Linked DNA regions of Homo sapiens. The main gene of each other region encodes a partner of the protein of the gene in region 3 in a complex. Each region holds a gene or a part of one and is shown on either strand. Other genes may lie near its edges.

The links. Proteins that work in one complex are often made in the same cells at the same time.
Region 1: THOC3 (region 3) and THOC5 share a complex: the UniProt entries of both Homo sapiens proteins name them as parts of the transcription/export (TREX) complex.
Region 2: THOC3 (region 3) and THOC7 share a complex: the UniProt entries of both Homo sapiens proteins name them as parts of the transcription/export (TREX) complex.

The regions. Positions count from the first base shown.
Region 1 is NC_000022.11:29,505,357-29,508,792, forward strand, and holds the end of THOC5 (THO complex subunit 5), read right to left. Parts: intron 3,165-3,436; coding exon 3,101-3,164; 3' UTR 523-3,100; downstream 1-522. UniProt on the Homo sapiens protein: Component of the THO subcomplex of the TREX complex which is thought to couple mRNA transcription, processing and nuclear export, and which specifically associates with spliced mRNA and not with unspliced pre-mRNA.
Region 2 is NC_000003.12:63,833,348-63,839,840, reverse strand, and holds the end of THOC7 (THO complex subunit 7), read left to right. Parts: intron 1-67; coding exon 68-185; intron 186-1,341; coding exon 1,342-1,469; intron 1,470-1,778; coding exon 1,779-1,865; intron 1,866-3,482; coding exon 3,483-3,540; intron 3,541-4,450; coding exon 4,451-4,517; intron 4,518-4,617; coding exon 4,618-4,687; intron 4,688-5,641; coding exon 5,642-5,709; 3' UTR 5,710-5,971; downstream 5,972-6,493. UniProt on the Homo sapiens protein: Component of the THO subcomplex of the TREX complex which is thought to couple mRNA transcription, processing and nuclear export, and which specifically associates with spliced mRNA and not with unspliced pre-mRNA.
Region 3 is NC_000005.10:175,959,031-175,965,315, reverse strand, and holds the end of THOC3 (THO complex subunit 3), read left to right. Parts: intron 1-160; coding exon 161-365; intron 366-3,881; coding exon 3,882-4,043; intron 4,044-4,164; coding exon 4,165-4,265; coding exon of another isoform or gene 4,266-4,357; exon of another isoform or gene 4,358-5,126; intron 5,127-5,183; coding exon 5,184-5,347; 3' UTR 5,348-5,785; downstream 5,786-6,285. UniProt on the Homo sapiens protein: Component of the THO subcomplex of the TREX complex which is thought to couple mRNA transcription, processing and nuclear export, and which specifically associates with spliced mRNA and not with unspliced pre-mRNA.

The DNA.
Region 1 (3,436 bases), on a different chromosome or scaffold from region 3:
CCAAAGGTACCATTCTCTTCTCCTTGCTAGGCTCAGGTTTCTTTTCTTTTTCTGAATGGGGACTCACTATATTACACAGGCTGGTCTTGAACTCCTGGGCTCAAGCAATCCTCCTGCCTCAGCCTTCTGAATGGCTTGGATTATAGGCATGAGCCACCACGCCCAGCAAGGATCAGGTTTTCATCCGTAAAATGAACGGCCCTGCTAGGGGCAGGAATTTATTACTTAGCTCTTACTCTTAAAATCCTTATCCCTGGGATACTCAGTGGTCGGCAGAGAGACCTGGAGGAATAGCTTTTATACTGGAGGTCTGCATTATCCATGGAAAATCAGTAAAAGTCCACTTAGGGGGAATATGCTTATGATGGGAACCAAGCTTAACAGCATGTTGTGGGGGGATAAAGTTTCATCAGGACAATCACAAAAAATAAAATGTGTTTCCTCTTGGAGTTAGCAAACTATATCTGCAACTATGTAATAATTCTCAAATATTTTTACATTTCTACATCTTTTTTTTTTTTTCCAAGACGGAGTCTTGCTCTGTTGTCCAGATGGTGCAGTGGCACCATCTCGGCTCAGTGCAACCTCCGCCTCGGGGATTCAAGCAATTCTCCTGCCTCAGCCTCCCGAGTGGCTGGGATTACAGGCGCGCACCACCATGCCCAGCTAATTTTTGTATTTTTAGTAGAGACGGGGTTTCACCATGTTGGCCAGGCTGGTCTTGAACTCCTGATCTCAGGTGATCCGCCCACCAGCCTCCCAAAGTACTGATATTAAAGGCGTAAGCCACTGTGCCCAGCCCATCTTATTTTTTAAAATGAAGAATGGAGTACTGATGGTGGGGTCAAGATACACTTTTTGACAAAACTGTCCAAGAATAGTCTATGCCATCCTTTACTTTGACTTGCAGGAGTATTACAAAGGATGTAATTTTATGAACATTTTAAAGGTTGTTACCTATCTTCCCAAGACTTCTCTTAATCAAATAATTATATTTTGAGGCACTTTTGTCATTACCTTAAAGACTCTACTCAGGCCGGGTGTGGTGGCTCATGCCTATAATCCTAGCACTTTGGGAGGCCGAGGTGGGAGGATCATTTGAGCCCAGGAGTTTGAGACCAGCCTGGGAAAAATAGTGGGATCCCGCCTCTACAAAAAATTTAAAAATTAGCCAGAAATGGTGGCACACACCTGTGGTCCCAGCTACTTGGGAGGCTGAGGCAGGAGGATCACTTGAACCCAGGAGAGGTTGAGGCGGCAGTGAGCTGTGTTCGTGCCACTGCACTCCAGCCTGGACAACAGAGCAAGACCCTGTCTCAATAAAAAAAAAATATTCTCCTCAAATGTTACCTGGTCTCACTGTCCTGTATCTCTGTATGTGATTGATTCTCCAACACCACTCTCGCCATCTCCATGAAATCCTGTAAGACTTAGAATTACTCTCTGTGAAGTACAGTTGATCTCTGAACAATAGTTTGGACTCTGTGGGTCTATTATATGCAGATTTCTTTTTTTAAAATTTTTTAGAGATAGGGACTCGCATTGTTTCCCAGGCTGGAGTACAGTACAGGCACGATGAATAGCTCACTGCTACCTTGAACTCCTGGACTCCAGTCATCCGCCCACCTCAGCCTTCTGAGTAACTGGGACTATTGGTGCATACCACCACACCTGGCTGATTTTTAAATTTTTTGTAGATACAGGGTCTCTCACTACGTTGCCCAGGCTGGACCTGAACTCCTGGCCTCAAGGGATCCTCCCGCCTTAGCTTTCCAAAGTACTAGGATTACAGTCATGAGTCCCTGCACAGATTTTGTTCAATAAAAATAACAGTGGTGCCTGCCTCCCCCTCCACCTCCCCCACTTTTTCTGCCTCTGCCATCCCTGAGACACCAAGACCAACCCCTCCTCTTCCTTAGACTATTCAACCCTGAGACAGTATGTGAAGACCTTTATGGTGATCCACTTCTACTTAATAGTAGATATATATTTTCTTCCTTATGGCTTTCTTATTTATTTATTTTTGAGACGGAGTCTCACTCTCGCCCAAGCCGGAGCGCAGGAGCGTGATCTTGGCTTACTGCAACCTCTGCCTCATGGGTTCAAGTAATTCTGCCTCAGCCTCCTGAGTAACTGGGACTACAGGCATGCGCCACCACGCTTGGCTAATTTCCATGTTTTTAGTAGAGACAGGGTTTCACCATGTCGGCCAGGCTGGTCTCAAACTCCTGACCTCAAGTGATCCACCCGCCTTGGCCTCCCAAAGTGCTGGGATTACAGACGTGAGCCACTGCACTCAGGCCCCCTTGTGACTTTCCTTATAACATTTTCTTTTCTCTAGTTTACTGTATTGTAAGAATACAGTGTATAAGATACAAAATATATACTGAAAATATGTACTGACTATGTTAGCAGTAAGTAACTACTAATAGCATACTACTGGTCAACAGCAGGCTATTAGTTAAGTTTTTAGGGAGTCAAAAGTTATACACGGATTTTTCAACTGTGCAGGGCAGGGGGTGTTGGTGCCCCTAACCCCTGAGTTGTTCAAGGATCAACTGAGTTTGTCTTCTGTTTGCACTGCACTGTCAGACATTTATAACATCCAACGATCAGAGACAATTTGTCCATCGGCAACCCTGACAGGACTAATGGGAAGAGCGGGTGGGGAGGGAAGAGTTTTGCTTTTTGTGCTCTGCTGCCTTTGGCTTCTCCTACCACCTCTTAACAGCAGGAACTTGGGATAATAAATACAAGATCATGAGGACCTCACCCCGCAAAGCACAAATAGGGTGTGCGTAGACAAGAGGTGAGCATCTCTCTGCAGAATTGGAATCTTTTTCCACTCTGCTTTTATTGGCTGCTGAGAAAAAGTCTCTCTACAAATGCTTTTTCACACTGTGTCACAGCTCCCACCTGCCCTTCCAGACTGCAAAGCCACCTTGCCAGGAACCACAGACAAAGGCCACTGGTCAGGTGACGCTTTTTAATTGGCTGGTGTCTTTGGAGAATATCAAGAGTCACATGTGGGCCAGAGCAGAAAGCAGAAGCCCAGTGCTCAGGGTGAGGCCTTGGGGGAAACAACGGTCTGCGCGGGAGATCAGCGATGGCTGAAGAATCCCTGAGGATGGTTGTATTTAAATGGCTTCATCCTGCTAGGACCCCTAGAGAAATAGGAGAACGGAGTTGTTAATAACACACCTTCTAGGCTGATAAAATAAATTATGGTTCATTCACACAAGGGAAAAAGAAGAGGCAGAGTTACATGACACAGAATGTTGTTGAGAAAAGCATACGGCAGAACAACATATAAGGTGCGATACTATTTTTGTAAAAATGTCTTTTTGTGCTTGCAAATGAGTGAACACAAACTTGGAAAGGCCCTCACTGACAGTGGCACTTCGGGGACATAGCTTTAGGCACCCTCACTTTTTAG
Region 2 (6,493 bases), on a different chromosome or scaffold from region 3:
GATACTGGTTATTTGTACTTGAAAGTTACCAAGAGCCAGATGGTAACATTGCCCTTCTTTCCTGCAGACGAAGTTATACGGAAGCGTCTCCTCATTGATGGAGATGGTGCTGGAGATGATCGGAGAATTAATCTGCTAGTGAAGAGTTTCATTAAATGGTGCAACTCTGGGTCCCAGGAAGAGGGGTATTTCATTTTCACTGTTGTTTCCATACCAGTGTCCTAATGTGATTTTAGGCCCTATATTAAGGTCCTGTGAGTAGATCAAATTTTCACTCACCTTAAATGTACAGTGGAGTCAACTCTTAATTAACCAAGAGTAGATTTTCTTGGCCTTTTCTTCTCTTCAAAGGCCTCTCATATGTTTATTAAAACATGGAGAAGGCAGATTGGTAAGGAGAAATGAAGATTAAATTCAGACTCATTAGTTTGGTTACTTTTAGGACATAAGTGTTTAGTAAGATAAAATATCTAAATGGAATTTTCTCCTTTGCTAATAAAAGGCTGCTGCTATGTATGTATATATTAAGTTGGTGCAAAATTAATCGTGATTTCTGCCATTAACTTTAATGGCAGAAATGGCAGAAACCACGATTACTTTTGTACCAACCTGATACACACGCACACACGTATATCTAATCTTTTTTTTTGTGAGACAGAGTCTCATTCTGTTGTTCAGGCTGGAGTGCAATGGCACAATCTTGGCTCACTGCAACCTCCGCCCCCCAGGTTCAAGCAGTACTCGTGCCTCAACCTCCTGAGTAGCTGGGATTATAGGCATGCAACACCATGACTGACTAATTTTTGTATTTTAGTAGAGATGGGGTTTCACCATGTTGGCCAGGCTGGTGTCAAACTTCTAGCATTAAGTGATCTGCCCACCTTGGCTTCCCAAAATTCCAGAATTACAGGCATGAGCTACCACGCCTAACTATATTTATTTATTTTTTAACATAGCAAACTTTTTCTCATTTGAATTTGCTTTCCATATAAATAATTTTATAGAGTGAAAAAATTGTGGGAACAGAATTGTGAAGTTAAAAAAACATCTTAAAGTATTTCTAAAGTCTTTTAAACAAAATTCAAATAATTGTTTGAATAAAATGTGCATTGATAAGAACAACAATCCCACCTTTGCATTTGTAACTAAAGTAGTTAAATTCAAGAATACTACATTTGATAAAAAGAAAACTTAAGGGACAGATATTCTAAATTTTAAATAAGCAAATGATTCTCTCAGAACTTGCTATAATTTAATTAGCAAATATTTGTCTGCATTATAACAGTTCACTTTTGTCAGTCCACAAATATCTTTATTTTGGTTTTCTTTCTTTTTCATTAGATATAGCCAGTACCAACGTATGCTGAGCACGCTGTCTCAATGTGAATTTTCAATGGGCAAAACTTTACTAGTATATGATATGAATCTCAGAGAAATGGAAAATTATGAAAAAATTTACAAGGAAATAGGTAAAGAATCTTAATGTTTCTATCTGTAATTTTATTTTTTATGGTCTAAAGGAAACAATACCTGCTAACAATTTTCTTTGGTGGTAAAAGAATAATAACAATTACTGTATTAATGGAAAGAATACAGTAAATGTTAGCTATAAAAAATGTGTATTCTAAGATGATATAGTACTTTGGGTTACAGCTATTTTTTAAAAATACTAGTGTCTATTTTGTTACCAATAGAGGTTAATTTATAAATGCGTTTTAAAATTAAAAATGGATTATTGATTTTGTTACAACTATCTTTTAAAAAACCTTCTCATATAGAATGTAGCATAGCTGGAGCACATGAAAAAATTGCTGAGTGCAAAAAGCAAATTCTTCAAGCAAAACGAATACGAAAAAATCGCCAAGGTAAGGGTTTTGAGGGATTTAATGTGCAAATACATTATTACTGACTACAGTTTTCATGCAGTTTTTAATGTTGTGAGGTAAAATCTGCAGCCTGAATCAACCTGGATTAAAAAAAATCCAAATTTTAATTCCTTAAAACTATATTATTCTTTAAAATAGAGAAGGAAGTCTGTGTTGAGAAGAATGTTTTTGCTGGATTACATTGATTATCCAAGTATTTCTTTTCTGTTTTTCTCTTTTTTTTTCTTATCCCAGTATTTCTTAAGTATTAAATTTTTACCATCTTGGACCCTTTTGCCTAAATAATGTTATGGTTAATCAGCAGAGGCAATTTACATAAATATACTAGATTTATGGTTTGGGTTTTTTGTTTGTTTGTTTAATAGAGCTACTTTCCAAAAAATGAAATGGAAAAGAATTTAAACTCTGAGTTTTCATTAAGTACAAAGCAAGCAAACATTTCTAGACTGCCTAGAATATCTAATAAGAAGGTTAAAGTTGAGTTTTGTTATAATCTCTTGTTTTTAAGTTAGAGTATACCCTTATGTAGTTCCTAAATACTATTTCAAGATAATTTTTAATGTTAGAGGCACTGCTCTTCTTATAATGTAAATTGAAGAAAAGTAAAAATAAAAAATATAATGTGTAATCACAACTGTTACATTGATATGAAAAACTAGAAGAAAATAGAAAATGTTAATGGTTATTTTGAAGTTGTGGGTTTTTATGGCTTAGGTTCTTTTCTCTGTTTTTGTGTTGTTTTGTTTTGTTTTACATAGGGCATGTATTATTTTGTAATTCAAAAAATTTGTATCCAAAAGAATCATACTTTGAATTAATATGCTCAGTTCTAAAACAATGAATTTTCACTTTTTAATGAACTAATTAAGATGAAGCTTAATTTCCTCTTTTTACAAGTTTTTTTTTTCAGTTTAAAATGTGTATGGTGAAGTTTTGGTGCCTTATTTACAGTAACATATACCAACTTAGTATCAGTTCTAAAGTCATCTAAAAATATTTTGCAGTGTTTTCGTTGGTTAATGAGGCTTTTAAGTAAATCCTGCCACTCATCACTTCATAAGAAAGCTTAACAGGAGTTACATGACTTATCTTGGAGGTCTCAGTGGAGCAGAAAATAGAACCTGAATTTTAAGTTATTTGCAAGTTTCTGAAATCTTAACTTTTGGAATGAGTGAGAAGTGTAATTTGCTGTTGACTAACAACTCAGATTAATGGTAGGATATATTCACTGATTGTATTTTATTTTATTTTACTTTTTGGACAACTAGTGAGTAAGATCCTTCTCAGAATCAGTCTATTTGATAATCAATAATAACTTAAATTTGCTTATGCTTATGCTGACCTCTTACGTTCTGTCCAGGACATATAAATGGAAAAAAAGTGGGAGCTAAAACCCCTGTTTGGAACACTTTTGATGTTATGTATCGTTATAATTATAACTCAGTTAACTAAAACTGGCAATACTCATCTTTCAGTGATTTCATTTCTTGATGTACTAGGAAAGTGATTAGGAGAGGTTTGTGATATTACACATTTTGTTTTGATAATTCACATTCAAAAAATCCTTAGTTTGATAAATATTTTTATGTCTTACAGAATATGATGCTTTGGCAAAAGTGATTCAGCACCATCCAGACAGGCATGAGACATTAAAGTAAGTGTAGAGCTTTACTTTGAAAGGAACTAACCTTTATACATAAATGCTCGAAAACTACCGTAGGCATTTCATTTTTGCAGAAATAAATATGTTTCAAAAGGAGGGGTCAGATATTCAATATTATATTTTCCCATACTTCTCTGTTAGATTTTATTTTCCTCTAACCTTACCAGCTATATGTCTAAAATAAATGCATATAATATGCATCAATATCACAATGGATAAATAGAATATGGTCTTCATATATTAAAATATTGAATTTCAGTTAAAAAGAATAAACTAGTTATGCCCTTTTAAAACACAGCTCTCAAAACATAATCAGTGAAAAGACACATAATAAACTTTAAATTATATTTAAATTCCTGAAACACATACAGAATAATAACCATTTATAAAAGTTAGAACCCCCTTTCAAATATTATATACCAATACTGTGTATTATTCAGGGATACAAGTATATGCATAAAAAAGAATAAGAATGATATAGTAGTTGCCTGAGTGGGAGGTAGAGGAGATAAAAAGGCCCAGGATAGAGGACTAGGCGTAAGATTCAAAGGGTATTTCGAGTTAATTGGCAATGTTTTATTTCTTTTACCAAAATAAAAAACCCTCGAAGTTAAACTTCACAATATGTATCATTTCTTGGGTCTTGTTATTCTGTTATCTGTATTTTTCTGTACTTTAAAAATGGATCCAAAAATGTAATTTTAATGAAAGTGAGTCCATATTTAGAAGTTAAGAAGAAATCATCCTCAGCTTTAAAAGTTTCACCATAATGGAGTGTTATAACTCCTTATAAGCCCTTTTTTTATTTTAAAAATCCTATCTAGTAACTTAAAAGTTAGGCATTAATTGTAAACTCTTCTCCCCCATTCAGCAAAATGTAACACTGTTTTATTATTTCCAGGGAACTAGAGGCTCTGGGAAAAGAATTAGAGCATCTTTCACACATTAAAGAAAGTGTTGAAGATAAGGTATTCGCATATATATTTAGCCTTCATGATCTGTCTATCTGTCTGTCTATATATCTATATATACAGGTCATTTGTATAAATTTTTTTCTTGTTAACACAGCTGGAATTGAGACGGAAACAGTTTCATGTTCTTCTTAGTACCATCCATGAACTTCAGCAAACATTGGAAAGTAAGTAGAAATAGTCTCAAAGTAAATGCTTATGAAGATTTTTTAAATGACCCAGGGATGTACCTTTTGAAATATACATCTTGGAGAGACAGTATACCTTCAATTTCTGAACAGTGTAGCTGGATGACGTTAGAAGGTACTCATGTTCAACTTTCTTGAATACATGTAGAAAAGTCTTAATTTGTAGTAATATAGGATTTAAACATATACATAGTGGTTTAAATTAAGAAAAATTCAAGGATGATAGATTTGGAATCTTTCTTGGTTCACTGTAGTTGACTACTATAATATAACAACTCAGGACCCAGGCAGGCAATAATAAGAAATCAGTACATACGAACATTTGCATACCCACTGAGTAGTGGGTGCTTTGGGGAACTGGAGACTTGCTCTTTATATTCACTATAGGCAAGTGGAAATTTTTGTGTTACCTGATCTTCTGATTGTTTTAAAGAATAGCCTAAGACCCATTTTTTCTTTTCTTTTTTTTTTTTTTAAGACAGTCTTGCTCTGTCACCCAGGCTGGAGTGCAGTGGCACAATCTTGGCTCACTGCAATCCTCACCTTGCAGGCTCAAGTGATTCTCCTGCCTCAGCCTCCCTAGTAGCTGGAATTACAGGTGCATGCCACCACACCCAGCTAATTTTAGTATTTTTAGTAGAGACGGGGTTTTACCATGTAGGCCAGGCTGGTCTTGAATTCCTGACCTCAGGTGATCCACCTGCCTTGGCCTCCCAAAGTGCTGGGATTATAGGCATGAGCCACCAGACCCTGCCTGGATTTTTTTTTTTTTAAGTGAAGTCTATCACATAAATTTTAAAGTTTGATTCAACTAGTAGCCATCTTAGCTTTAATTGTATTGGCTAATAAAGGATAAACATGTTTTCATGTGTTCATCGAATATAAAATATAGGCAAACTTGACTAAGGTTTTATGTTTCCTTCTCAATTACAGATGATGAAAAACTCTCAGAGGTAGAAGAAGCTCAGGAAGCAAGCATGGAAACAGATCCTAAGCCATAGACAGGCTAATTGCCCACCACTCCCAGGAATATTGAAATAGCTACATGACCATAATGTGTTTAAAATGTGGTATGCTCTTGAGATATTTAAAGTTTTGGCAGTAAAATACTCTGTTTTTAAGTATGAATGTATTTCATTCATATTTCCTCTCACAAAGGAAAATGACTTCAGTATAGATTTGTTTTTATTAAAATGCATTTTTTATTCTTAAGTGGTAGGAAGCAACATCCAAAAATGCTTAATAAAATGCTTTTAAGCTGCATATGTTTGTGCTCATTAATATTCTAGGTAGTTTTTAACTGGTAACATTGATTGGCTTACAAAATAAGTTGAAAATTGTTAGAAGTTGGCATTTCTAGGATGTACATGGGAAAATGAGCCAATTTCTGGAAATGGTTACACTTCTGAAAACGGAGTCTATGAAGAGGCTTTAGGAGGACCATGAACCTGTGAAATTACATGCAAAATGTTAGTGGTGTATGCTTATTGTGGAGAGAGGTTCCAGGCTGTTAAAATTCGCTGGTATGGGACGTTAATTATAAGATGCAAAGTAAAATAGTGCACATTACTTTATATATCTCTCCTTAATATGAGAGGAATATGGTTCTCAAATGTTTTGTTGATCTGTTTTCTCTACTGTTTTGTTCTTTAGGAATCATTTTCAATAGAAAAAGATGTATTGATAAAGTGAAGAGTGTTTGAAGTAAATAGTTTGTTAAGATTGTTTTGCGTAGGCCAGGCATGGTGGCTCACACCTTTAATCCCAGCACTTTGGAAGGCCGAG
Region 3 (6,285 bases):
ACTTATTGTTGAATCATAAGTGGTAGCTCCCTTCCATTGTCTAGGACTTTAATGAGTAAGCCCGGAAGAAAGCTCTGGTCTTCTTTCTAGGATAGTGCAATAAACTTGTGGAAGATTATGAGCAAACAGATTATCTTGCTGATTATGTCTGGGTTCCCAGGGGAGAACATTAATATCTGCTGGAGTCCTGATGGGCAGACCATTGCTGTAGGCAACAAGGATGATGTGGTGACCTTTATTGATGCCAAGACACACCGTTCCAAAGCAGAAGAGCAGTTCAAGTTCGAGGTCAACGAAATCTCCTGGAACAATGACAATAATATGTTCTTCCTGACAAATGGCAATGGTTGTATCAACATCCTCAGGTGAGGGGGTCTAGCTTAGGGGACTGTCATGTCTTTGTGCTGGGTGCTGTGTCAGATATGGAGATGAATTAGATGTGAGCCTATCCTGAAGGAGCTTAAAACACAAATAGTAAGAGAGAATCCTAACCTGTCTTAAGTACATTTGAGCTGTATATTTTATATACTTTATATTTTACTGAGTCCTTACAGAAATTCTAGGGGTTGATGATTTGCTTCTCATTTGACAGATGAGGATCTGAGGGTGAGAGGTTACATCAGTAGTCAGCTAGTGTGTGCTAGAACTGGATGCACCTTGAATTATGGCTAATTCGTACTCCCTTTTTTTTTGTTTTTCGAGACAGAGTTTTGCTCTTGTTGCCCAGGCTGCAGTGCAATGGTGTGATCTTGGCTCACCGCAACCTCTGCCTCCGAGGTTAAGCGATTCTCCTGCCTCAGCCTCCCAAGTAGCTGGGATTAGAGGCATGTGCCACCACACCTGGCTAATTTTGTATTTTTTGTAGTTTAGGGTTTCTCCATGTTGGTCAGGCTGGTCTCCAACTCCCGACCTCAGGTGATTAGCCCGACCTCTGGCTAATTCGTACTCTTAAAGTTTCAACTGAAATATCACTTTGCCTTCAGGGAAGCTCCCCCGCTACCCCAAGGTTAGAGGTAGGTTAGAGGCGTATTTTATATACTTTCTGTAGGAAGCACTTTTCTTTCTATATTGTAATTGCATGTTTATTTGCCTGTGTCTCCTGTTAGACTGTGAATTCCTTGATGGTAGGGATGGTGTTTGCCTTGTTTAGTGTTGAGTCCCTAATGTCTAGTCCTGTACCTGCTCCACGTAGTAGGATCTTAGTAAATATTTGTTCTGTAAATGAATGAAACTGTGGAGCTGAAATTCAGGTCTGTTCAATTCTAGCCTTCCACTATCCCAGGTGAACAATGCAAGACCAAGTGAGATAGGTTCTGTGAGTGGGAGGCCAGGAGTTTGCTGTGAAATTCCACGGAAAGAACAGACATACTATATGGGGGGTTGAAGGAGGGAGCTTGTGAGCTTGATCTTGAAAGATGAGCAGAATTTTAAGAATAAGCAAAAGGGAACCACATAACTGACAAAGCAGGTGTGAGTGAGCATGACTTACTTGGAGAGTGGTTAGGTCAGGGTTGTTGGGGGAGTGGTGGCAGATAAGGGAAATAAGAGAGGGCATGATAATGGGAAGATGAAGTCTAATTTGGGACCAGATTATAAAAGGCCTTTATTTTATGCTTAGTATCTTGGGTTTTATTTTGTAGGCAATGGGGATTCTATAACTTTTTAAGAAAAATCTTTTTATTATAAAACACAGATATTGAAAACCACATAAAATAAATGTATAGCTTAATGAACTCTTATAGGCTTAACTCTTGTGCAACCCCGCCCAAGTTGAGAAGTAGTTCTTTCCAGCCATCCCAGAAGTCCATCCAGGTGATTTGTCCTAATTACAACTTCCTTCCACAAAAGCAAACACTATCCTGACTTTTATAGTGTTTCTTCATAGTTTATCTACCACATGTGCAGCCCCTAGATACCCTAGTTTTGCTCATTAAAAAAAAAAAAAATTGATATGTCTTTTGTATCTCTTAAATTACTCAAAAGAAACTTCCGAAAACGTAGCTGTTGAAAAACCAGACTGTTAACCTGTGGAGATTCTCCCAGTTTGGCTTTTGCTGATTCCATATGCTGTTTATGTGTTGGACTGTTGTGTAAAGAGATGCTGCTTCTCATCTGCGATTTGGTTACCCAGTAGTGTAGTTCATGTAGGGAAGGCAGGATAAAATTTTGATTCTGTTTGTCAGATAATGATTTTGTTTCCTGCTACCTCCAAAGATGAGCAGTTAGGTGTTTTTTTTTTAAAGAATCATTACGGGCTGATGTTTTTAAACATAGTTGGTGTGTTTCCATCTCTTGTAATTGTTACGCCTGTTGAAGCTCAAATTATCCCATCTTTGGCCAATAAGAACCTCTTCAAGTTGGTTCCTGAGACCTTTTTTGACATAATCCCATCGTCTTCTGTTTTTTTGCTCTCTGGTTTGATAAGATGTTCCAAGTTCATCTTGTGCATTTCTTGCCCCAGACCTTTAATCAGAACATTCTCCAAGAAGCCTTAACATTCTGGCTGGGTGCGGTGGCTCACGCCTGTAATCCCAGCACTTTGGCACTTTGGGAGGCCGAGGCGAGTGGATCACTTGAGACCTGGCAATCATAGAGAAACCCTGTCTCTACTCAAAATACAAAAATTATCTGGGCGTGGTGACGCACGTGTATATTCCCAGCTGCTTGGCAGACTGAGGCAGGAGAATCGCTTGAACCCGGGAGGCGGAGGTTGTAGTAAGTTTAGATTGCACCACTGCACTCCAGCATTCTGGACGACTGAGTGAGATTCCACCTCAAAAAAAAAAAAAAAAAAGGAGCCTTACATTCTTTTACTGAGAAATGATACTGAAGTTAGGAATGTTCATTACTGCTGGGTTGGCCTAGGAATTACGTGTGTGTGTGTGTGTGTGTGTATATATATATATATTTAAAGATAAAATACCTTATGAATTCATGTTGATAACTTGCAATCAAAATTGAGGACTCCAGGGATTTTACTAAACCTCTTCTATATTACAAATATATTTCTTTCCTCCCAAATTGAGTATTCTGGTTCTCAAGGGCACAGGGGATCATAGAATTAGAATATCCGATGGTTACTTATTACCTATCTCCCATGGTAAACATATAGATGTCTCAGAACAACAATATTACTGCTGCTACCACCAATGTGATGACTTGAAACAAAAAATGTTTTTGGTTTTTGCATATACTCTTTCCATTCTTCCCCCATTAAAAAAATAGTACTATATGTTGTAAGCATGTGCAGATGTTACATATTATACCCTCTCTTTAAACCATGTATAGTTTTTGCAAGAAACTGTATATTCAGTGTTGAGCACCAGTCCTTATAAGTCTCTAGTCATTTTTTTAATTGAAGCTCATTCTCTAGTTAAGATTCCTCGGGAAGCGTTCATGGGAACATTATTCCTGGAGTTTTTATTACAACTTATTTACGTACTTCTAAAACTTACAGATTTTATAAAACGTTATTGTGCTTATTGTTTGTATCATTATATTTGAAATTCAGTTTTGCTGGATGTAAAAATCCTTGGCTCGTTTTCTCGCTTGTGTATCTTTCTTAAATATGGTACTCCATTTTCTTTTGGCATTAAGTGTTGCTGTCAGAAAGCCCAATAATCTAATTTTCTTTTTCTTTAAAGTCCACTAGTTTTGCTAGTCTCTGTCTCGATGTTGGTAACTTTGGTTCTGTAGTCTCAGGTATGTGTTGTGCTTTTTAAATAATGTAGTTCAAAATCTTTTTTTATTTCAGGAATGTTATCTTGAATGACAGTTCTTGGTGGTGGTCTATTATCTTTGCTTTTCTTCTTCATCATCTCCTATTATTGTTTCAGCACCACAGTCCTCTTCTGCAGTTTGATCGCTGTCTTTTTTCTCAGCTACCCAGAACTGAAGCCTGTGCAGTCCATCAACGCCCATCCTTCCAACTGCATCTGTATCAAGTTTGACCCCATGGGGAAGTACTTTGCCACAGGAAGTGCAGATGCTTTGGTCAGCCTCTGGGATGTGGATGAGTTAGTGTGTGTTCGGTGCTTTTCCAGGTAAGTGACTCTATCAGCACTTCCCTTGTTGGGTACATTAATTTTATTTCATCTTGAGTGACATTGTTCCCTCCTCTTACTTGGTAATTCTCTTGTCTCTTCTGTCCACTCTGTATCATAGGCTGGATTGGCCTGTAAGAACCCTCAGTTTCAGCCATGATGGGAAAATGCTGGCGTCAGCATCGGAAGATCATTTTATTGACATTGCTGAAGTGGAGACAGGTAACTTCATGAGAATCTACCGTCTTTCACCTTTGGCAGTCAGGACTTCTCTTGTGATCTCATCTCTGCATGTGACTACTTCACCAGCATGATCATGAATGAATTTGTCTCCTTTAGACAAGTATGTTTCTGTTTTGACTGTCACTGCCAGGTGGTGAGGAAGCAAAGAGTTAAGAAATAAACAGGCAGGTCTGAGGAAAGTGATTTAGAAAAATATTTTGATTTATTTAAACTTTAAACTACAGAGTAGAAGGAAGAAAAAAGCACCACTTGGGGTCCCACTCTCTAAATACCACCTGTTTTAAATGTTGTGATATATTTCTCTTTATCTTTTGCCTGTATATGAACTTGAAAAAATATTATTTAAAATTTGAGGAATTATAAAGTTTTTGCTTTAAAAACAACAGAAGCTGGAAATAGAAAAATGGGAGGAGAGTATTCATTTTGCAAAAGAATTTCCTCAGATTTGTTTTTTAATGTTGCTTTATTGTTTTTGGAAATCTTTGACACTCTTCGTAAAAAGATTAAAACTGTATAGAAAACTTCGAAGAGGAAAGTAAAGAACTTGAAATTCCACTATGTAAAGAATGCATGCCCCTGTTAGTCACGTTGTGGTGAACATTGTCCAGCATCCAGCCATGCAGATCCTTCATGTAACTGCATGTCCCTGTGACGCGGAGACACTTTCCTGCTCAGTGACCTGCTCTTGAGTTAACCCACCTGTGCTCAGAACCGGCTCTGTCCTCCACTGGCTTGTGGGCTCTCTGTGCCTGGGGGTTCTCTGTAAAATGAGGTAATAGTTGTATCTATCTCATGGGATTAGTAGGTGGATTAAACCAGTTAATACTGGTAAGTACTTAATGAATGTGTCCTTCGTTTTGAACGTATTGATTGGTTTCTCTCTATTGTTTTCTGTAGGGGACAAACTATGGGAGGTACAGTGTGAGTCTCCGACCTTCACAGTGGCGTGGCACCCCAAAAGGCCTCTGCTGGCATTTGCCTGTGATGACAAAGACGGCAAATATGACAGCAGCCGGGAAGCCGGAACTGTGAAGCTGTTTGGGCTTCCTAATGATTCTTGAGAGGAGGTTGTAGGGAGAGGAGGCCCCGGCAGAGGTCTTCCTTCATGTGGTTAGTTTGGTCTGTTCTCTCGGAGTTGGTGGGCACCCTAAATATTTGTAAGTTGGTATAAATTGTAAACGTCTCTGGTCAGGCTGCGCATTTCATTCTTTTGCTTTGTCTGTGTATTAGCTCTTTCCATTCTTTGCCCCCAGCATGAGTTAACTCGCGTGGACTCTGCAGTGCGAGTAGTGACCCCACCATACCTTGTCCTCTGGACCTCCTGTCTTCTCTGCTTCTGGGTGCATGGTAGACTTTGTGGCATTTGATACAACTTGGACAATACCTAGTTTGGAGGGAGGGGAATGGAAGGGCATGGAAGTTTTTTTAAATAATTAAAAATATATATATATAATTTTGAGAATTGAGCATTTAATAAACTGACTTTTGTTATTATGGAACTTCTAAGACTTTTAAAATTATTATGTCCTTGAGTTGCAGTTTTGTATTTTTTTTTTTTTTAATTTCAGAAAGAGAATTTAAATGTTATAATTCTGTCATTTAATGTCCCAACCAAGAAGCCTCTGAAATATAGGGACAAAGCTAATTGAATGACCAAACTAAAATTTTGGCTCTGAGCTTCCTGGTGGCAAAGTGAAGAGGGGAGTAAGTCATTTAGCTTTCTTATTGAAAAGAAAAACACTTATTGGTTCCTCATGGAAAGCAAAGCTTTATTAGTTCTTCCCTCTAAAAAAAAGGGCTTATGTTTGGAGGGTTGTTACCTAAGAGCAGTGGTTTTTCATTATATTGTAATTTTGTTTGGTGTTAAAGCAAATATTGAGGCATATAGAAATAGTGTTGGTAGAAAATTTTGGAAAAAGATAAGCAAAAAGAAAAATTACATTCCTAGCACCAAGAGGTAACTGCTATTAGAATTTTGATGTATATCCTTCCAGAAGTT